2 linked regions of the Homo sapiens genome follow. The protein of the gene in region 1 binds, or shares a complex with, the protein of each later gene. Each region holds a gene or a part of one and is shown in the gene's direction. Other genes may lie near its edges. The genes, in order: HLTF and S100A10.

Region 1 (10,433 bases):
GAGAACAGCCTGGGCAACATGGCAAAACCCCATCTCTACAAAAAACACAAAAGTTAGCCAGGCGTAGTGGCGTGCACCTGTAGTCCCAGCTACTCGGGAGGCTGAGGCACGAGAATTGCTTGAACCCAGGAGGCGGAGGTTGTAGTGAGCTAAACGCACCACTGCACTCCAGTCTGGGCAACAGAGCAAGACTCTTGTCAAAAAAAAAAAAAGGTAGTATTTCTTATATCAAAAGGGCATTTAGAGTTGAAGTTTTAATGTTCTAGCCATAAAGGAGGCAGAAAGCCTGGGCGTGTGGCTCATGCCTGTAATCCCAGCACTTTGGGAGGCCGAGGTAGGAGCGTAGGAGGATCACTTGAGCCCAGGAGTTCAAGACCAGCCTGGGCAACCTGTCTCTCCAAAAAAAAAACGAACAAACAAAATTAGCTGGGCATGGTGGTGTATGCCTGTAGGCCCAGCTACTTGGGAGACAGGTAGGAGGATCAATTGAGCCCAGAAGTTTGAGGCTGCAGTGAGCTTGTTTGTGCCACTGCACTCCAGCCTGGGCATCAGAGCAAGACCCTGTCTTAAAAGAGGAAAAAAAAAAAGGAGGCAGAAAAAATGTTTATTAATCCTTGCAGTTTTCATTAAAATAAAAAGATTACTTTGGTATGGCCATGACAGAAACCCTAAATCATTCCAGGGCCTAGAGTGGTACTTCCCTGAAGCTGGGGAAAGGACCCTGGGCAGAAAGCAAAGGAGGGGGCAGATCCCTGGCTGGCCTGATGCCTTGCAACCCTGGGCTTGAGCCACATAAGAGCATTTAGTGAGTCAAGGCCTAAAGGAGGAGGGAACAATTATCTCCTGGGAAAGGGCTATATAATCTGGAACACCACAGATTTCTCAGACGCGGAGTTGAGATTAGAGTGTCTCCTACCGCTTGATGAAACAATTCAGTCTACTTCAAGGACGTGCACCTGGAAAAATGACTGGCTTCTGGAAACAGTGTTATTCTGCTATTTAGGAACAACCCTGCTGATTGAGCCTCAATAAGGAAAATAGGCCTCAATCAACCATATTTCTTAAGTGCTAGAGGACTCGTTAGACAATAACTCTATTACAACAATAAGAGCACTTACTGAGTGCTTACTCCAGGGCAGCACTTCATATTCATTATATTATTTAATTAAGAAGATTTTTACTTGGCATTAATTTAATATCACTTTGGCCCTGTCAGCTGTGGTTTTACTCAGGATTTTGTCCAAAATCTAGAGAAACCTGATTATAAGAAAATTTAATAAGTCACAAAATATTATATTTTCTTTTCCACTGCATTGTCTTGGTTATTTAAAAAAATGGTTCAGAAATAGTATTGTACCAATGTTCATATCCTCATTTTGGTCATTGTACTATAGTTATGTACGGTATTAAAATAAGTGGCATAAAGGATATGAGGCAACAATTTGTACTAAATTTGTAATTTTCTGTAAGTCTACAATTAGATAAAAATAAAGCTGAATAATAGTTCATCATTTCTTTAATAAATTACTCATTTTATTTTATTATGGCAAAAAGAAATACATGTTTAATGTAGCAAATATTTTATATACATATAAGTAAAAAGAAGAAAATGAAAATTCCCTAATTTAACCAGCTAGAGGTATTTACTATAAATATCTAGGTATATCTTCATCAAGATGTGTGCATATGGACATATAGCATGTATGAATTTCAATCACTGACTATATTTGCAAATGTAAAACTTTATATTTCTTTATTGAACTTAATTTTTCTTAAACCTTCATTCTGCCTAATGGCAGGTAACCTAATTTAGTCACTTCTGAATAGTTCAGTCATTTTAAGATTTAAAGTCATTTAAATTCAGCTTTCAGATTTAGTTCCCTTCGTCTTACCCACCAGGGAGGTTATATTTGGACTCCATTCATCTAATGCAGTCACCCATTGCAGATGTAACTCATCTCACCTCACCGTTGGGGACCAGCATCCTGCTTTTGTTTGCTAGAACCATAATCCTGATGATGCCCTCCAGCCTTCACAGGGCTAGAGGCTCACAAGGCTACCCCGGGTCCCCTTAACAGAGCCACCTCAGTCACCTTTACTCCTTTATTGCCTTGGCACATTTCTAGTCTCTGAGGTTCTCTCTGAGATCTGCAGAATACTGAGGCCACTCTCTGGGAAATGTGGCATAGCTTCCTTTTCTTGTGTAATCTACAGAAACTTTGCTAGACTTTCTAGCATTCTCCCTTTGTGCAGATTGGCCCAGTGTGATGGTATTCTAGGTCTTCTCTCTAAGACCCACTTAAGGGATTTACTCTGCAAACCCTCCTGCCTGACATTCTTGAAAATTCTCCTCAATTGAACTTTTATCTCCTTTGGAGTGAAAGAAGCGAACAAACAAGCAAGCTCTTACATCATCCTACTTTCTTCAGTCTATGAGTTATGATATAAGCTTAAAAGTTTCTGTATTGAAGCCAGATTTCTAGATATTCAGATTCTTCTCTTAAAGCCCCTCCCTGCTGCCTGGTCCCTGCCCCCACACCAATGGCTTTAAAATTCTATTTTGCAAAGTGTAAAAAACATTTTTTTTTGAGAGGGAGTCTCGCTGTGTCACCCAGGCTGGAGTGCAGTGGAACGATCTCGGCTCGCTGCCATCTCCGCCTCTTGGGTTCAAGTGCTTCTCCTGCCTCAGCCTCCCAAGTAGCTGGGACTACAGGTATGGCACCATCACCCCCTGCTAATTTCTGTATTTGTAGTAGAGACAGGGTTTCACAATGTTGGCCAGGCTGGTCTTGAACTCCTGGCCTCAAGTGATCTGCCCACCTCGGCCTCCCAAAATACCAGGGTTACAGGCGTAAGCCACCACACCCAGCCTAGAAAAGGCCTAGAAAAAGTGGCTCACGCCTGTAATCCCAGCACTTTGGGAGGCCAAGGCGGGCAGATTGCTTGAGCTCAGGAGTTCGAGACCAGCCTGGCCAATGTGGCAAAACCCCCTGTCTACAAGAAATACAAAAATTAGCCTGGGGGTGGTGGTGCCATGCCTGTAATCGCAGCTACTTGGGGGCTGAGGCTGGAGAATCGCTTGAGCCCAGGAGGTCGAATCACGCCACTGCACTCCAGCCTGGGCTACTGGAGTGAGACCCTGTCTCAAGAAAAAAAAAAATTTTTTTTTTGAGACAATTGTGAACATTTGATTATGAACTAGTTATTAGAAGATACTAAGAAGTGATTTGTTATTAATTTTGCCAGGTCCATGGTTTTTAGAGAAATTAGTGAAGGCCATTATAGGCAGGGTGGGTTGGGAAGTGACCCGAGAAATGAAGCTACTGTGGGAGGAAGAGCCACATATGCCATTCTTGGATTTCAGGCTCACTGAATCAAACGGGAGTGACATGACATGATTAATTTGCATAAAGGTTCTGTGTGTGTGTGTGTGTGTGTGTGTGCACGGGCATGTGTGTGTGTGGCTAGGGGTGCAGATGAGAAGTGTGTTTGTGACTGGGAAGTGGCTGGCTGGAGAAATTTTGGATTCCTTTCCTTTCCATACCATTCCTACCTAAATTTATCAGTGAACATTTTGGTTCTCTTGGCTTCATCACCTTCCCTTTCCAAGCCACCACCATCTCTTATCTGAACACAATAATTTTCTATCAGTTGCTTCTATCCTTGTTTCCTGTAATTCTCCACAGAGCTGCCAGCATTTTTAAAAGCCTAAATCAAGTCGTTATCCTCCTGCTCGAAACATTCAATGGCTTTCCATTGCAGTTAAAACACAAATTTTACTGGAGACTCTTAAGTTCCTATGTAACCTGGCCCTTATCTTCCCCACCGTCCTTTTAGTGCCACTTTCCTTCTTACTCACCAGCCAAACCCCACAAGCCACCCTACAGTTCATTTTCCAGTTACAAGTGTTCATTTTTCATATCTACTTGTGATGCTGTTATCAGAATAAATCAAGAAAAAACCAAAAAAGTTAATTTTTCAGAAAACATTATTTAGTATAATAGTTTTGAAATTGTAATTGCTGTAACATTTTAATCAAACTAGTACAAATTGTACTTGATCTTTAAATATAAAACAAAGAATGATTAAGGGAAAGAATGTTTTACTCCTGGTTCTGGGATGTGAAATATTGATAACATAGAGAAAACATACTGTGGGAGGAAGAGCCACATATGCCATTCTTGGATTTCAGGCTCACTGAATCAAACAGGGGAGTGACATGACATGATTAATTTGCATAAAGGTTCTGTGTGTGTGTGTGTGTGTGTGTGTGTGTGCGCGCGCGCGGGCATGTGTGTGTGTGTGGCTGGGGGTGCAGATGAGAAGTGTGTTTGTGACTGGGAAGTGGCTGGATGGAGAAATTTTGGATTCCTTTCCTTTCCATACCATTCCTTTAAATAGCAAATTTTAGTTCATTCAAAGCACATTCTTTAACCATGGGACAGTCATTATTCATAGATCTTAAGTCTTTTTATTTTTTTGAGATGGAGTCTCGCTCTGTTGCTCAGGCTGGAGTGCAGTGGCTTGATCTCGGCTCACTGCAACCCATGTCTCCCTGGTTCAAGCGATTCTCCTGCCTCAGCCTCCCAAGTAGCTAGGACTACAGGTGCGTGCCACCACGTCTGCTTAATTTTTGTATTTTCTTAGTAGAGTCAGGCTTTCACCATGTTGGCCAGGCTGGTCTCGAACTCCTGACCTCAGGTGATCCACCCAACTCGGCCTCCCAAAGTGCTGGGATTATAGGTGTGAGCCATTGCGCCTGGCCAGTCTTAAGTCTGAAAGAGCTATGTTCTCATATTTGGAATTTTTTCTTTGTCTAGTGAGCATGACTTTCTTACTCTTACAAAACATCAATTTGAGCAATTTCTGGCATATTTTCCAAGAATTTATTTAAAATCTGGCATACTAAAAGCTGAACTGTATTGCCATTTGCCTCAACACACTTCAAGAAGAACATACAACAATTAAAATAATTTGAAATGCCATTGTCTTTATCTTCCTCATCAACTTTGGTCAAATGAAATAATACATTGTTTCAAATTCTATTGCTCATCCATGGTTCATGATTAGAGATCACTACAGTTTATTTACGATAATGAACAAATGTGTCTTGAAAAGCTGACTACCGGCCTGGCACGGTGGCTCATGCCTGTAATCCCAGCACTCTGGGAGGCCGAGGCGGGCGGATCACCTGAGGTCAGGAGTTCAAGACCAGCCTGGCCAATATGGTGAAACCCCGTCTCTACTAAAAATACAAAAATTAGCTGGGCGTGGTGGCGGGCTCCTGCAATCCCGGCTACTCCGGAGGCTGAGGCAGGAGAATCGCTTGAATCCGGGAGGCGGAGGTTGCAGTGAGCCAAGATCACCCCCATTGCACTCCAGCCTGGGGGACAGAGCAAGACTCCATCTCAATAAAAAAGAAAAAAAAACAAAAAAAAGAAAAAAGAAAAGCTGACCACCTAATATTATTGTGCTGACAGGCGTGTAACATGGACCTCTCTGTGACGCGCAAGTATTATCTGGCAGTTACATGGTGCCGCCTGTGCAGCTGGGCGCCACCACCAGCTTCCTGCCCTGTGCGATTAAAAGGCCAGCTTCGGGGACAGCAGCCTCCTCAACGCAAAGCGACCAGCCCTGCCAGGCGTCGGCTGCAGCTGGTCCAAGGTTGACGGTCCCAGGGCCGCATTCTCCTTCCGGTCACCTCAGACTCTGGAAAGAGAGCCATGGAGGGCCTCAGAGCGCCCCTCTGCAGTTCCTTGAGGAAAACAAGGGCCTCCCCCTCTTGGCTGGAGCAGCCAAGTGCCCACGGGGAAAATGGTCCCGTCCACCATTTCAGGCAAACGCCCCCATAGCTGTAATAAACATGTGATGGGTTTCCTGCACCAAGAAAGGAAAATTTTCCTTAAAAATAACAAAAAGAGGTGGGGAGGGGACTCTAAGTTCCATTTAAGATTTTCCAAACTCGTTGTGTCTCATGCATACGCTGAGGCTTAACATGAAAATTTGGAGCGAAAGTCCCCACGGTTCACCACAGGGAATGAAGTAAAGTATCTCGCCGGTAGCTCTAGGTCTCGTAAACCGTGGAGCTCCTTTAGTATAAGGCCCTATTATGTGCCACATTAGATGAGAAGAAAATAAGAGGAAGGATACGGTAGAGCCTTTAGAATGGGGTTCAGTCTTAGGACTCGTAGGATAAAGGAAGGTCGTTTCCCTCCGTTTGAGGCAGGGAATCAAACAAAACACCGGCACCGCAGGCACCGCAGTCGCACTCCTGGGGCCTCGTGGCTTTCCCGCGCGCCCGCCTTGGGGGCGGGGAAGAACCCGGATGGAACCACCCTTGCAGCCCGGACCCCCCGCCGTCTTTGAATGGCAGCGGGGCGGAGTTGCCCTCCCTTCTGTGCTCTGACTGGTTTGGCTCCGCACTCTCCTCTTCGTGATTGGGCTTTCCTAGTGCCAGTCACAGAGCGACGCTGGTCTCCCAGATTGTTGCAGAAGGAGACGGCGTCGACGTCTGACTGGACTCGCGGCGACTTACCTTTCAGTCGTGCGCTCCTGATCCGGCGCTCGGAATTTGTCCCCGGCTTCAGGGCTGCGGGGCCTGGAAGGAGGCGTATCGAGGCGGCTCGAAAACGATCCAGGGGAGCCGAGGCGCTCCTCTTGTCATCCCACTCAGCGCCATGTCCTGGATGTTCAAGAGGTGAAGGGGGCGGAGGGGGTGGGGCGCTCGGTCTAACGGCCTGGAGGCGTCCCCAAATGAACCTGACCTTCCCCGCGTTCCTCTGCGTTCCCTGGGCGATTTGTGCAGCTGTATTCGTTCTGTTGGTCGCATATGTGGCCGCCGGAGAAATAAATGCATTGTCTTCGCTGGCGAGTAGGGGCTCCTAGGGCGAGTCCCGTGTTAGGGACTTGGGAAATCTCTGTCACCGACTGTGGGGGGCCTGGGGCTTAAAGCATCTCGGCCAGTGCTTTATTTAACAAAACATCCATTAGATACCCACTGTGCGCCAGGCATTGTGCTCGGTGGAGGGCCGAGTAAGACAGTCCTTGTCCCCAAGTGGCTCACAGCTTATCTGTATGCACAGACGTGCAGATAAGTATTTGCAGAGGCGCTAGTAGAGATATGCGCCACTTGCAAGGAAAACGCATCGCAAATAAGCGACTGTTCTTAGGAGAATGGAAACTTTTTGCAATGCTCCAGTAGACTCCCCTTCACTTTTCATTGTCCAAATTGGTATTTATGGTCATTCCCGAAACAGTTACACCTAATGGGTTTGGGGTTATGCTTAAACCGGCGACGGAAGGCGGGTACGGGTGGCTTGGGGCCAATTTCCCACGGTGGCGTGGTTTGGATACCAGAATAGGTGTTCTGCTCGCAGGGAGTTACAGTGATGGATGCTGGATGTATTTTCTGGAAAATTATAAACAACTTCTGGTACATTAATAGTTGTATTTTTATAAGTCTTTTATATAGCTCAATCCCTATTGAAATTTTGGCATATGATTTCATTTTTTAAATTATTTTTTTGACATGGAGTCTCGCTCTGTCGTCCAGGCTGGAGTGCAGTGGCACAATCTCGGCTCGCTGCAACCTACGCCTCCCGGGTTCAAGTGATTCTCCTGCCTCAGCCTCCCGAGTAGCTGGGATTACATATGGGCGCCACCACGCCTGGCTAATTTTTGTATTTGTAGTAGACAGGGTTTCACAATGTTGGCCAGGTTGGTCTCAAATTCCTGACCTCAGGTGATCCACCTGCCTCTGCCTCCCAAAGTGCTGGGATTCCAGGCGTGAGCCACCGCATCCGGCCCATAATTGTAGTTACAGACATCATATACATATCAATTTAGATGATTTTCACTGGGAAAGAGGTTAGTGAACTCTGACTAGGCTTTTCATTTTGAATACCTAGGGGGCAGGTAGAAGAGCCAATATTGAAAACAGGTAGAGTTCCTAGAAGCCTTCTCCACTCACTGCAATTCCTGCTTTAACGAGAGTAACTATTAATCTTTACCGTGATTCCCATGTAAGATTTCATTTGCTGAAGTAAAGCATGAGAAAACTACTCATATGGTCTTTGGAAATACTTAAATATTATATTGTTTTTCTTTGCCTTTAAAAAAAAATAGGGATCCAGTTTGGAAGTACTTGCAGACTGTCCAGTATGGAGTTCATGGAAATTTTCCACGCCTCTCATATCCAACTTTCTTTCCACGTTTTGAATTCCAAGATGTTATCCCTCCAGATGACTTTCTAACTAGTGATGAAGAAGTAGATTCCGTTTTATTTGGAAGTTTGAGAGGTCATGTGGTTGGACTACGCTATTACACGGGAGTAGTGAGTATAATAGTAGATAATTAAATTTTGATTATATTTCTGGCGTTAACCTAGAAAATAAGAGAATTCGCAGGTGATGTGTGCGGTTAATCTTTATTTTACTTTAAGTTAGTTAAATATTTGTACGCAAAAAATAACAAATACCTTAAGTGACCCTCCCACCTCAGCCTCCCAGAGTGTTGGGATTACAGGAATGAGCCAATATGCTTGGCCTCAGTGCGTTATGTTTGGTTATTATGGGTAGCACCCCACCCCCACACCCCAGCGCCTTGTTCATGTCATCGATTTGTTGCAAAAAGGAGATCGTTTTGTGGAATCTTCTGGATTTTATTCTTTCATTTCTCCGTATGTTTCTTATGTTTAAGCTTCTCAATAGGGTGTCTGAAGCATGTTCGACAGGAGATTCCTTAGGAGTTTCATGTTCTGGATTTGTTTTTCTCCTGTATTTCCTTTACATTGGAACGTTTCAAATTGTTTTTTGATTGTCTGAAATGTGTTGTCTAGGAGATTCCTTAGGAAGAGACAATATTTCCTAAGTTTTTATATTTTCATACTTGTGGCATTTTATGAATGACAGTTTCATAAAATGAAAGTTATGAAGGACTTAATGACAGTTGGGCTGAATTTAAAATCTTTGTAATATATCTTTGTAATAAAATCTTTGTAATAAAATCTCCATATCCTAATGTTGCATAGAATTCTCAGGCCAGTGTGATTTTCTTTCACTTAAGTGAATTGGATTTTTTTTTTTTTCTTTTTTTTTGAGACCAAGTTTCGTTTTGTTGCCCAGGCTGGAGTGCAGTGGCCTGATCTGGCCTCACTGCAATCTCTGCCTCCCAGACTCAAGCAATTCTCCCAATTCAGCCTCCTGAGTAGCTGGGACTGCTGGCGTTCACCACCATACCCAGCTAATTTTTGTATTTTTTTTTTTTGTATTTTTTTTTAGGTTTTGGCATGTTGTCCAGGCTGATCTGGAACTCCTGGGCTCAAGTGATCCGTCCGCCTTGGCCTCTCCAAGTGCTGGGATGCTGCACCCGGCCTCTAATTTTTTCTAATAGATTCTTGAACTCTATCAGTTCTTATTTCACATCTATATATTCTCTGGCTCTCATATGCATTTCTGAGCTTTTCTGTTTCAGATTTGTGCTAATTTTTCAAAACTTACATTGCTTTCGATAATTATTTTATACCACCATGAAATACTAGATTATGGTAGTTATTGATCTTAGAACAATCAGTATTTTTGATCTGAGAATAATCTCTATGACTTCGGTAAACTCTAGTGTGTGTTGATAAAAAGTAATCATCAGTTTTCTTATTTTGCCAAATATATATACTTTAAATTTTATTTTTTTCCAGGAACACTATGTTGAGATATCATTTATTTTATAATTAATGCATGTTCTTTTATTTGTTTTTGTTTTTTTTTTGAAACGGAGTCTTGCTTGCATTGCCCAGGCTGGAGTGCAATGGTGCAATCTTGGCTCACTGCAACCTCCGCCTCCCAGGTTCAAGCGGTTCTCCTGCAACAGCCTCCTAAGTAGCTGGGATTACAGGCATGCGCCATCATGCCCAGCTAATTTTTTGTATTTAGGAGAGATGAGGTTTTGCCATGTTGGTCAGGCTGGTCTTGAACCCCTGACCTCAGGTGATCCACTCACCTCGGCCTTCCAAAGTGCTGGGATTACAGGCATGAGCCACCGCGCCCAGCCACGTTCATTATTTTTAAATGGCTAAAAAGGCATTAAATCTTCTGAAGTCTATCATCCAGAACCATAACTTATCTTCTACACTTGTTTCTGTGAGCATGTGCATGTAAATTGGAATCATATTATGTATTAATAAAAATGAGATCATATTATGCCTAATGTGATTAGGAATATCATCTATATTGGACTTATAATTTCCTTGTTGATGGACATTTTTGAGTTAATCACTATTATAAAAATAATAAAAATTGAGATACTATCTTTGCATACTTGTTATTTTAATTTTTTTTCTACTTTATTGAGATGTGGTTTACGTATGATAAAATGTACATATTTTAAATGTATGATCCTAGTGTTTTGACAAAGATGTATACCTGATAACTACTACCCCA
Region 2 (9,942 bases), on another chromosome or scaffold:
AGCGTAAAGTTGAGAGAAACAATGGAATTCTTTCAGGATTATAATGTATAAATTAGCACTCAAAGTGCTGAGAAAGCTGGACTAAAATTTTAACATCTTAAGTTTCTCATTTTTCTGGGGACTCAACAAATTTAGGAATCCACATCAAAAGCAAAAAGAAAGAATGTACTTCTTTTAAACAATTTTCAGCACTTTCTATCCCTTTACTAAATAAATACCACCCATCCTACCAAAGGATTTAACTAAAAGCAGTTTTGACAGTAGCTATGTTGGCTGATTAGGCTGATGCCTAAGCATTCTTTAAGGAAAAATTGATGTAGTTGGTTAGATTGAAGGAGGTTTCTTCCAAGTTCTTTCTTCCTATTGAATTGCATCTGAAACGTTCCTTTGCTGCCCAGTTCTTTAGTGGGCAAGTTTTAGTTGGTGAGAGGTGAGAGAGACAGCCTGGATCCAGATCCATTGCTTCAACTCATTTTTTCTGAATTCCCTTCAGAGATCAAATTTAAGAATGCCTTCTGGGTTCAATTTTAAAAACTCCAAAATTTCTAAAGCAAAAGGAAGGAAACCTCAAACATATTTTAAATAACAGATGTTTGTTTTTACTGACACCCTGCCGTTTATTTTCTGGGTGGGCTGTAAGAAAACTAGGGTATGGACAAGACACAGAGGAGCAAAGCAAGTCCGACTCACTCTGCAGAAGTGTCCTCTTTGAAACTGCAGCCGGGATCTGGGCATAGGTCCAAAGCAAACATTTGAGATTTTTCAGGAGCAGACACTTTTCTGAGGAGGACTCCTGCTTGTCTGCTACTCGCAGGACAACCAAAATACATCATTATCAATTTCTTAACAATTCATCGAGCAGGCTCTATGAGGGCTGGGGCACTGGCTATTGGGACCCTGCTCAAAAAACCTGCAACCTAGTGAGGAAAGAAACAGAAACACAAATAACTAGAATTCAGGCCAAATGCTTTAATAGTATTCCATTAGCTGGTGAACTCCTCAAAGGCAAGCACCATGGAGAGCTTTGTGTGTGTGTGCATGTGTGTATGTGTGTGTGAACACCCTCATGCCTAACACCATGTCTGGGACATTCAAAGTAGGTGCTCAGGGAGGGAGAACCAAAAATGGAAAATTGAATTCCTCCTAAGGTAACTAAATTTGTGGAGTCCAGAATTGTTTTCCATAGAGAAAACTATGCAGAGAAAGATGTCTCCGCCTCCCTTCTTAAGACCTGTTGCTCAGACAAACATGTAGAGGGCATGTATAGGCATCAGATTAGAATACTTCAATAAAAGGTGAGTGGACAGCAAGGCTGTTATTATCCTGTGGAGCTCAGCAGTGAGATAGCAGCACTAGAAAAGCAAAAAGTAGAAGATGGGATGAATGAAACACGAGAAAATAGCAAGTGTTAGAAGAGAAGGAGCACAGTCATGTCATTCTGACTAGACCTGTTTAGCAGGACACATATTTTTCCTTTTGCGTATGGAATGTGCACTCCTGTGTACTCTATCTACTGTTCCGTTCATAGTTGAACACTTTTGGGGCCCCTTTCCTGGCCCTTCCCAGCTCTCACATCGTCCTCCTGAGCTCTGAGCTACAAGGCTTTCAGCCTAGTCCTGGGTAATCACACCTGCACCTCAGCTACTGCCCAAGGGATTGTGTGGTTCATTTATGCACATAACAGTTATATAGTGCTCCATGAATAAAAGCAGAATAATTTGTAGTTCTTAATCAAGAGAAGCTTAAATCTCAGGCAGACAAGTAAACAATTAAATGAAATTGAATGTTTCAGGTGCAAGAGTACGTTATTGGGGATAGAGAGGACACTGCAGCCCCTCAGCCCCAGCCCCAAGGCCCTCCTGTCAAAATGTGTCTAACCAGGATGCAGGAAGCCCACATCTGTCCAGGAATAGAGCTTGCAGAGTGGCTACGTGAGGGTGGAAATGCCAGATTGAAGTCCCTGAAGAACTTCAGTTTTGGCAGCTAGCAGTGCTGCAGACAGCCCTGCCCAGGCAAGCCCCACCCAAGAACGGAGGGCCAGGCAGGGCTGACTCAGTTGGGCAACCATTGGCTGCACTCAGACAAGAGTTACATGATTCATCCTCTAGCCAAGAGAACAGAGTTTTAATCACAACATTTCCCCCTTTCCTTTGTCTTATTTTAAAGCCAGTGTGCAACTCCTTCCCCAAAACAGAGTTCCTTGCTGTGGCCCTGGTCAGTGCCCTTTGGGGTACTGGTTGCTGAGGAGACAAGGGCTTCTCCACTGATTTTCAATGCTATTTTCACCTCCTGGCTACTCCCTCCTCTGCATCCTTATTGCAGAAGGCCTACTGGACACACAGGGAGTCAGCTGGCTGCAATATTCACAATCCATCCACTGAATAAAACCGCTGGGGGAGGAGGGGAGGGGAAGACCAAGTGGGAGAAGGATGTAACTTCAGAGAAGGAAGCTCCGTCACTTCGTAATGGCTGTGGGCAAGAGAGGCATGCGACTGAGTGACTTCAGACCTAAGCACTCACACAGTGTGAGGTAGACTCACCTTGCTCTCCTGAAGAAGATACTCAAGGGTGGCCAGGATTTCCTCAGCTGACAACTTGTATTTCTTAGAACCTCCTAAAATTAGCCTTTTTAAAATTTAGAGGTCCTTACCCTGCTGCATTCCCTTTCTTAATTCTGCACTTTCCTTCTGTCCTGTCATCTGAAAAAAGTAAACTAGGTACCCCACCCAGTTCCAATTTCTGGGATCTTTGGGAATTGATCCTGAAGTGCTCTGCTGCTCTGAACTTGAGCACAGGTATTTTTAAACCTCTGTGGTGTCTGACTCCTTTCCTGAGTTATTTAAGAACTGGGGTGGGATCCCACGTCCTTCTCCCAGAGGTGACTCGCCCAGTTCAGTTCTCTTAAATTGCTGGACTTGGAGTACCAGTCCAGGCAAGGCAGACTCTCTGTAAGCCCACTGCCATCTGAAACCCATATGAGGGATGGGGGATGAGCCAGATCTGAGCTGTGTCAGAAGAGAAGGAAAAGGGTGTGGTTCCCCTGGAATTCATCTCACAGCAGACCTTGAAGCATTAATTTGCAGCTCTCTCCAAGATAACTAACTGCCTTTCAGATGACTCATGCCAGATTCTGATTTATAGCATTCTTTGGCCTGCTGGTTCCCATACTTTTCTGGAGATTAAGGGGTAGAATTTACAATTCTTAAGTGTTAATTGCTCAATCCTCATGTTTACCCACTCCACCTTCTCCTCTGTAAAAGATAGCATTTGAGAATCAGTGTTGAACAGGCATCTCTCAGAGATAGGAACCAGACCAAAGCATGTCTCAGGTTCCCATTAGAGCTCTTCAGCAGAGGAATTTGCCAGCCCTTCAATCTAAGCTCAAAGCCTATTCTTGTGATTATTTATTTTTATTTTTTAGTGCTATATTACAGTCTCCATTCACGTTCACCTGTTTCCTATCCAGTAGTGATTTTAGGTGATATTAGCCAAAGCTTATCTGTTCTCGCCAAATGATTCCTTCCAATTAAGCCAAAATTCACTGAGGTTCTATTAAGTACCACGTACTGGGTCTTGTGAGACATATACCCCTAGTTCATTATACCCAAATGTAATGATCTGACATGTTTCCTTTCCTTTCTTATAAACGCTTCATGATGAAAGCTCTTGCTTTCCCACTGTACCCCAGACTGTGAGAGCAGCTCATCTGTCTAATGTCACTAAAAACATAGGAGGCCCTCAAATGAGTTAGGTTATAGTATTACTTGTTGCTTCTCAAGTGAACTAGACAATGGACTTTGAGTAGTTTTCTGTTTGGGTAGAGCAACTGTATTTTACTGCCAGAGATGCAACTGTCTTTATTGCAGTAAATAACAAGTTCAGAGCTTTAGTAAAGAATACATATAGGCCGGGCATAGTGGCTCACGCCTGTAATCCCAGCACTTTGGGAGGCCGAGGTGGGCGGATCACGAGGTCAGGAGATCGAGACCACGGTGAAACCCCATCTCTACTAAAAATACAAAAAAATTAGTCGGGCGCGGTGGCGGGCACCTGTAGTCCCAGCTACTCGGGAGGCTGAGGCAGGAGAATGCCGTGAATCCAGGAAGCGGAGCTTGCAGCGAGCCGAGATGGCGCCACTGCACTCCAGCCTGGGCAACAGAGCAAGACTCCGTCTCAAAAAAAAAAAAAAAAAAAGAATACATATATACCCAGCAGATAAATTCATTTGTAAGCAGATTTCTAAACCCTAGAATCACACTGAACCAAGTTACCACTTTAAGCTTAGAAGGGTGAAGTTTTCGTATTTACCAGACTTGACTGTGTGGATTGTTAGTATCAGCCATATCTAAGAATCCCATTTACTAGTGCCAAGAGAAATTATGAACTATCTGTTCTTTCAGTAGGTGCTTTGTCAGTTAAAAAGAGGAACACTGGGCCGGGCGCAGTGGCCTGTAATCCCAGCACTTTGGGAGGCCGAGGTGGGCGGATCACCTGAAGTCAGGAGTTTGAGACCAGCCTGCTCAACATGGCAAAACTCCGCCTCTACTAAAAATACAAAAAATTAGCCGGACATGGTGGCGGACGCCTGTAATCCCAGCTACCTGGGAGGCGGAGGTTGCAGTGAGCCAAGATCACAACACTGCACTCCAGCCTGGGCAACAAGAGCAAAGCTCCGTCTCAAAAAAAAAAAAAAAAAAAAAAAAAAGAGGAACACTGATGTTGCTTTTCTAAATTATTAGTTTCTATTCTTCATTAGATTATTCATGCAAATTAGCTGGAGTTAGCTAAACCCCTTTATTTACAGCACCAGTATCTGAGGTGTCTATTTCTACCAACAAGGGACCCAAACTGGGGTGGACTGGTTCTTAGATTCATTCACTGAATTTTAAAGCTGGAGAAGATCAGATGGATGATCTAATCTCCATCTTTCCAATTATCCTAAAAAGGCTGGCAATACATATGGCTTAAAAGTTAATGTAAATCTACAAAGATGAACCTGGAGGACGTTACGCTTAGTGAAATAAGCCAAGCACAGAAAGACAATTACCAGATGATCTCACTCATGTGGAATCTTAAACACTGAATTTCATAGAACTAAAGAATAGAATGGGCTGGGGTGATTGCATTTGAGTGATGTTGAGGAGCTATTGGTCAAAAGATTGAAAATTTCAGTTAGGAGGAATAAGTTTAAGAGATCTACTGTACAACAACGTGACTATAGTTAATTACAATGTATTGTATTCTTGACAAATAGTTAAGAGTGGCTAAGTGTTCTCACCACAGAAGTGCTAACTATGGGAGGTAATGCATATGTTAATTAGCTAGATTCAGTCATCCCACAATGTATATATACCTGAAAACATCATGTTGTACACATTAAATACATACAATTTTATCTTTCAATTTAAAAAAAATAAATTCATGCATAAAGTCTGCCAAAAAAAGTTAATGTAGACCCTGTTACTTTACATCCTTTAATAGGCTTCAACGGACCACACCAAAATGCCATCTCAAATGGAACACGCCATGGAAACCATGATGTTTACATTTCACAAATTCGCTGGGGATAAAGGCTACTTAACAAAGGAGGACCTGAGAGTACTCATGGAAAAGGAGTTCCCTGGATTTTTGGAAGTAAGTGTTGAAAAGCTTACAAAGAACCAGACATAAAAGTCAATGCTTCTAGGCCTTGGTTCCTTTTCCTTCTTGTTTCCATCCCTTCCCTGTGGAGGTCACCACTAGTGAATAAATGAATGTAGTCACCTGAAGGAATGAATGAATGACCTCATTCATTCATTTATTAAATAGTATTGAGTACCTGCTATTTGTAAGATACTGTTGAGGAAACAAAGTAATGAAGACACAGCCCCAACCTTCAAGGAGCTTACAGTCTGCAGGTGAAATAAGACTGCATACAAATAACCACAATATGAGCTGTTTGTTGGAAAATTCCATCGGGTTATCTGTGTCTGTTGTGACGATGTTGGGGACAGAGTTGGGAGAAAGAAAGCTTTTCACAAAAGAGTAGTCAACCAGAAAATGGCTACCTTCAGGTCCAAAAACCTGGTGGTGGAGATGCCACATCCTGGTCACATTCCATTTTGAGCAACTCGAATCTCCCTTCTTAAATCTCTTCAGATAAAGGGATTGTTTTTTCTTTTTCTAATACTACAAAGGAGCAGTGTCAGTCATCTACTGAATAAAAGCCACATATCACTCCAGAAATAACTGCTTTTCACATAATAATGCTCTGACAGCACAGGAGCAGTTTGAATTTATGTCTCACCTTTGACAGACTGAGAGATGCATGAAGACCTATAAGAGGACTCTGCCATCAGCTCAGATACATCACTCAGGACATGGGGCCACAAGGCACAGTTGTCCTTTTATATTCCAGGTTCTCGAGAGGTGGCTGTTGAATTCAACTGAAGGTGCAACATTGCATGACAAAATAGTAGACTGAAATGCAAGCCCTTCTTTCCCTACCACAATTGTAGTCACCTGAAAAGATTGTTTCTGTGCTTGGTGTTGAATAATGCATTAACCTGTAAAGGGTGAGAGGAGATACGGTAAAACGTTGGGTCCTGCCTCTTGTCATCTGACTGGTAAACGGCACATTAGTCCAGCCCCTGACTCCTGCAATCAATAAACATGAGGCTTTTTAGTATACTATAATTCGTATGTCATCAATATCAGTTAAATAAACAGATATAAATAGCCTAACTGCTCTCTCAGAGCTGCAGTTATTACCTAATGCTATCCCAGAATGAGTTAGAATATGCAGGTCCTCTGCTTTTGTAGAGTCCTGTGATATAGCCCCAGACCAGGAGTTAGAAGATCTGGCTCTGCCTTAACTAACAATGGGCAGGTTGCTTCAGCTCTCTAGTCTTCAGTTTCCTCCCCTGTAAAATTAGAGAGGGCTGGACATAATTATCTGCAAGGTCACTTTCACTTTCTATGATCATTCAAGACAAGCATTAAGATGCAAGGACAAAATGTGCTCATTGTAAGCCTGCCTGTCCTATAGACAAAGGCATTCTCAGTACACTAAACACTTGTTAAGAGTGTTGTTAAGAGCCAGAGTGAGTATCATGTAAGACACAGACCCTTTCTTCCTAAAGGCTTTGTGGCATCAGACACATAAAGGGTATATGTAGTGTGGAGCACTAACCATGGCAGGGTAATTTATTCCAGGCACAGAGTCATAATTCTGGAAACATCTAGACTCACTGCATTAACAGAGCATTTTGTTTCTAAAGTAGACCTCTTATGTCATCCAGATTTCACTCATTCTGACCACAGCCAGGAAGCTGAGGGTGAAGCCAGAATTAGCTGAAACCCACCAAGAGCTGCATAGAGCACGTTTAGCTAGAGTAGGAGTTTGCAGTGCTCATGTGGGAAATGCTGCTGCTATACTTTTAGGAATTTCTGAGTGCAATTTAGAAACATCTAGCACACTTGAAACACTGCGTATCATTTTCCTCACTCATGAATATAGTCATCAGAATTCATAAATAGTTTACCTGAGCCCTTTAACAACCTCAAATAGGCCATATTTCTCTCTCTGGTTGATGGCATGGACCCTACAGGAAAAACCACACCTTACCGCTTCTGACCAGCATCACTACAAAAAGGAGTGCTGAAGCCAATCACCATGTAAGCAAGATAAAAGCAAAGGGGGTCTTGCCTGCCCATCTCTGTTCCATACATTCTTACCAGGCACTGAGAGTCATGGGGAGTTTAAGACTCCATCCCACATACTCCTTTTGAAACTGGTCCAGTGTACAACATCCAGTGAAGAGTATAGGATGGCATAGACTTACCAACTCAAAGAATGAAAGGATTCTAGAAACATTATAGTCCAACCTCCTCAATTCATCGTTGATACACAAAGGCCCACTAAGCTGTGTGGTTCACTCAGCATCACGTGGCTAATATGATATGAAGCCACACTAGCTTGTCCTCAGCTGTGCCAAGAATGAGAGCTGCCTTCTCCAAACCTAAAACCAACCCATGGCATCATTAACACCTCTTTAAAATCCATAGGACAGTGATCCAAAACTTATTCCCTAAATCATAAATATCTTTTCATAAGGAGTTTCCTTTGTAAGGGATTTGACCATGCCATTAGGAATAAAATTTTAATAAGAGAATGTAAGTTTAAACCATAAAATGAGGAGCTTAGGGTGGTTCTTAGGCAGAATCTAAATATGAAATTACTGAAATGCTCCCACAAGGCAAAAAAAAAAAAAAATACATTTAGATGAACTCCAAAGGTTGCTTATGACCTAAAACAAGAGCTCAAGTAATTGGGAGATATATACACAGTTCTCAGCAGTACAAATCAAATAAGCTCCTCATTGCAACCTTTGACTTCTATTTCTTGCCTTTGTTCTTTTTTTTTTCAGAATCAAAAAGACCCTCTGGCTGTGGACAAAATAATGAAGGACCTGGACCAGTGTAGAGATGGCAAAGTGGGCTTCCAGAGCTTCTTTTCCCTAATTGCGGGCCTCACCATTGCATGCAATGACTATTTTGTAGTACACATGAAGCAGAAGGGAAAGAAGTAGGCAGAAATGAGCAGTTCGCTCCTCCCTGATAAGAGTTGTCCCAAAGGGTCGCTTAAGGAATCTGCCCCACAGCTTCCCCCATAGAAGGATTTCATGAGCAGATCAGGACACTTAGCAAATGTAAAAATAAAATCTAACTCTCATTTGACAAGCAGAGAAAGAAAAGTTAAATACCAGATAAGCTTTTGATTTTTGTATTGTTTGCATCCCCTTGCCCTCAATAAATAAAGTTCTTTTTTAGTTCCAAATTTGAGACAGAATGTTTGTTGTTCCCTCAGAAATTCTTGTTCCCCAAGAGGCAGCTTGCCCTTGGGCAGCCAGCACACAGCAGAGCTTTTCTTACACAGCAGAGCTTTTCTCACAGAACTGGCAAAATGAGAAAACACTCTTCATTCAGGCTTGGAGTCTGACTTCTCTAATTGTTCTGCCCTTGTAGCTGTGTCTATATGAAGGACTCAAACTTGAAGGATTAGGAGAAGGCTCTACAGGAATAGATGGTAAGTTTATAATTACTGGGCACAGTTTTGCCCAGTTAAATCAGTGCTTTTCTAGCCAGCACTTTGCATGCCTGCAATGTCTGAATCCAATTTTCATAGCAAAGTGTCAGCAAACCTAAGGCAGAACTAGGAGAACCAATCAGGAGAGGGTGTAGCTTGACACCTTGGTAATAACATCACATTAGCATCTATTAAGTCAACTCCCAGATGTCAGGAAATATGGTAGGCATGACTTATACACGGGGCAGTACACTTTTGTTGAAAATGAAGTGTCAGTACTGATGTCTTGATAATCAATGCAAAATGTTCCTCCTAGCCCTTTTTTGTGCCTGTTAGAAGCTTCAGGGTATATGTGCATCAATGCTATATGCTTATTAATAACACAGTACTCTATGCTTTTATGGAGAGGTGATATATGAATTCCATGAATTGGCACATAGCATTGTTCCAAGTAAATAGGTCAAAGAAGATGGAATATTTACTTTTTTTTTTTTTTTTTGAGACGGAGGCTTGCTCTGTCACCCAGGCTGGAGTGCAGTGGTGCAATCTCGGCTCACTGCAAACTCCACCTTCCCAGGTTCACACCATTCTCCTGCCTCAGCTTCCCGAGTAGCTGGAACTACAGGCGCCTGCCACCATGCCCAGCTAATTTTTTGTATTTTTAGTAGAGACGGGGCCTCACCGTGTTAGCCAGAATGGTCTCGATCTCCTGACCTTGTGATTTGCCCGCCTCGGCCTTCCAAAGTGCTGGGATTACAGGCGTGAGCCACCGCGCCCGGCCTGGAATATTTACTTTTTTGATTGGACACATCAATATTAACTCTGGGAAAAACTTCCATCTCACTCTGGGAAAAAGTGCAATATAAGGTTATCGA

Evidence for each region.
Region 2: the proteins of HLTF (region 1) and S100A10 are in contact, whole or in part, in a crystal structure (PDB 4HRE), measured with the Homo sapiens proteins. Residues at the interface, in NP_001305864.1 of Homo sapiens: Thr32, Phe33, Phe34, Pro35, Phe37, Phe39; in NP_002957.1 of Homo sapiens: Phe42 (codon at 5,626), Asp58, Leu59, Asp60, Gln61, Gln70, Ser74, Leu75, Ala77, Gly78, Leu79, Ile81, Ala82, Tyr86.

What each region holds. Positions count from the first base shown.
Region 1 is NC_000003.12:149,082,581-149,093,013, reverse strand, and holds the start of HLTF (helicase-like transcription factor), read left to right. Parts: upstream 1-6,480; 5' UTR 6,481-6,677; coding exon 6,678-6,697; intron 6,698-8,124; coding exon 8,125-8,332; intron 8,333-10,433. UniProt on the Homo sapiens protein: Has both helicase and E3 ubiquitin ligase activities. Possesses intrinsic ATP-dependent nucleosome-remodeling activity; This activity may be required for transcriptional activation or repression of specific target promoters.
Region 2 is NC_000001.11:151,981,791-151,991,732, reverse strand, and holds the end of S100A10 (protein S100-A10), read left to right. Parts: intron 1-5,481; 5' UTR 5,482-5,502; coding exon 5,503-5,634; intron 5,635-8,408; coding exon 8,409-8,570; 3' UTR 8,571-8,818; downstream 8,819-9,942. UniProt on the Homo sapiens protein: Because S100A10 induces the dimerization of ANXA2/p36, it may function as a regulator of protein phosphorylation in that the ANXA2 monomer is the preferred target (in vitro) of tyrosine-specific kinase.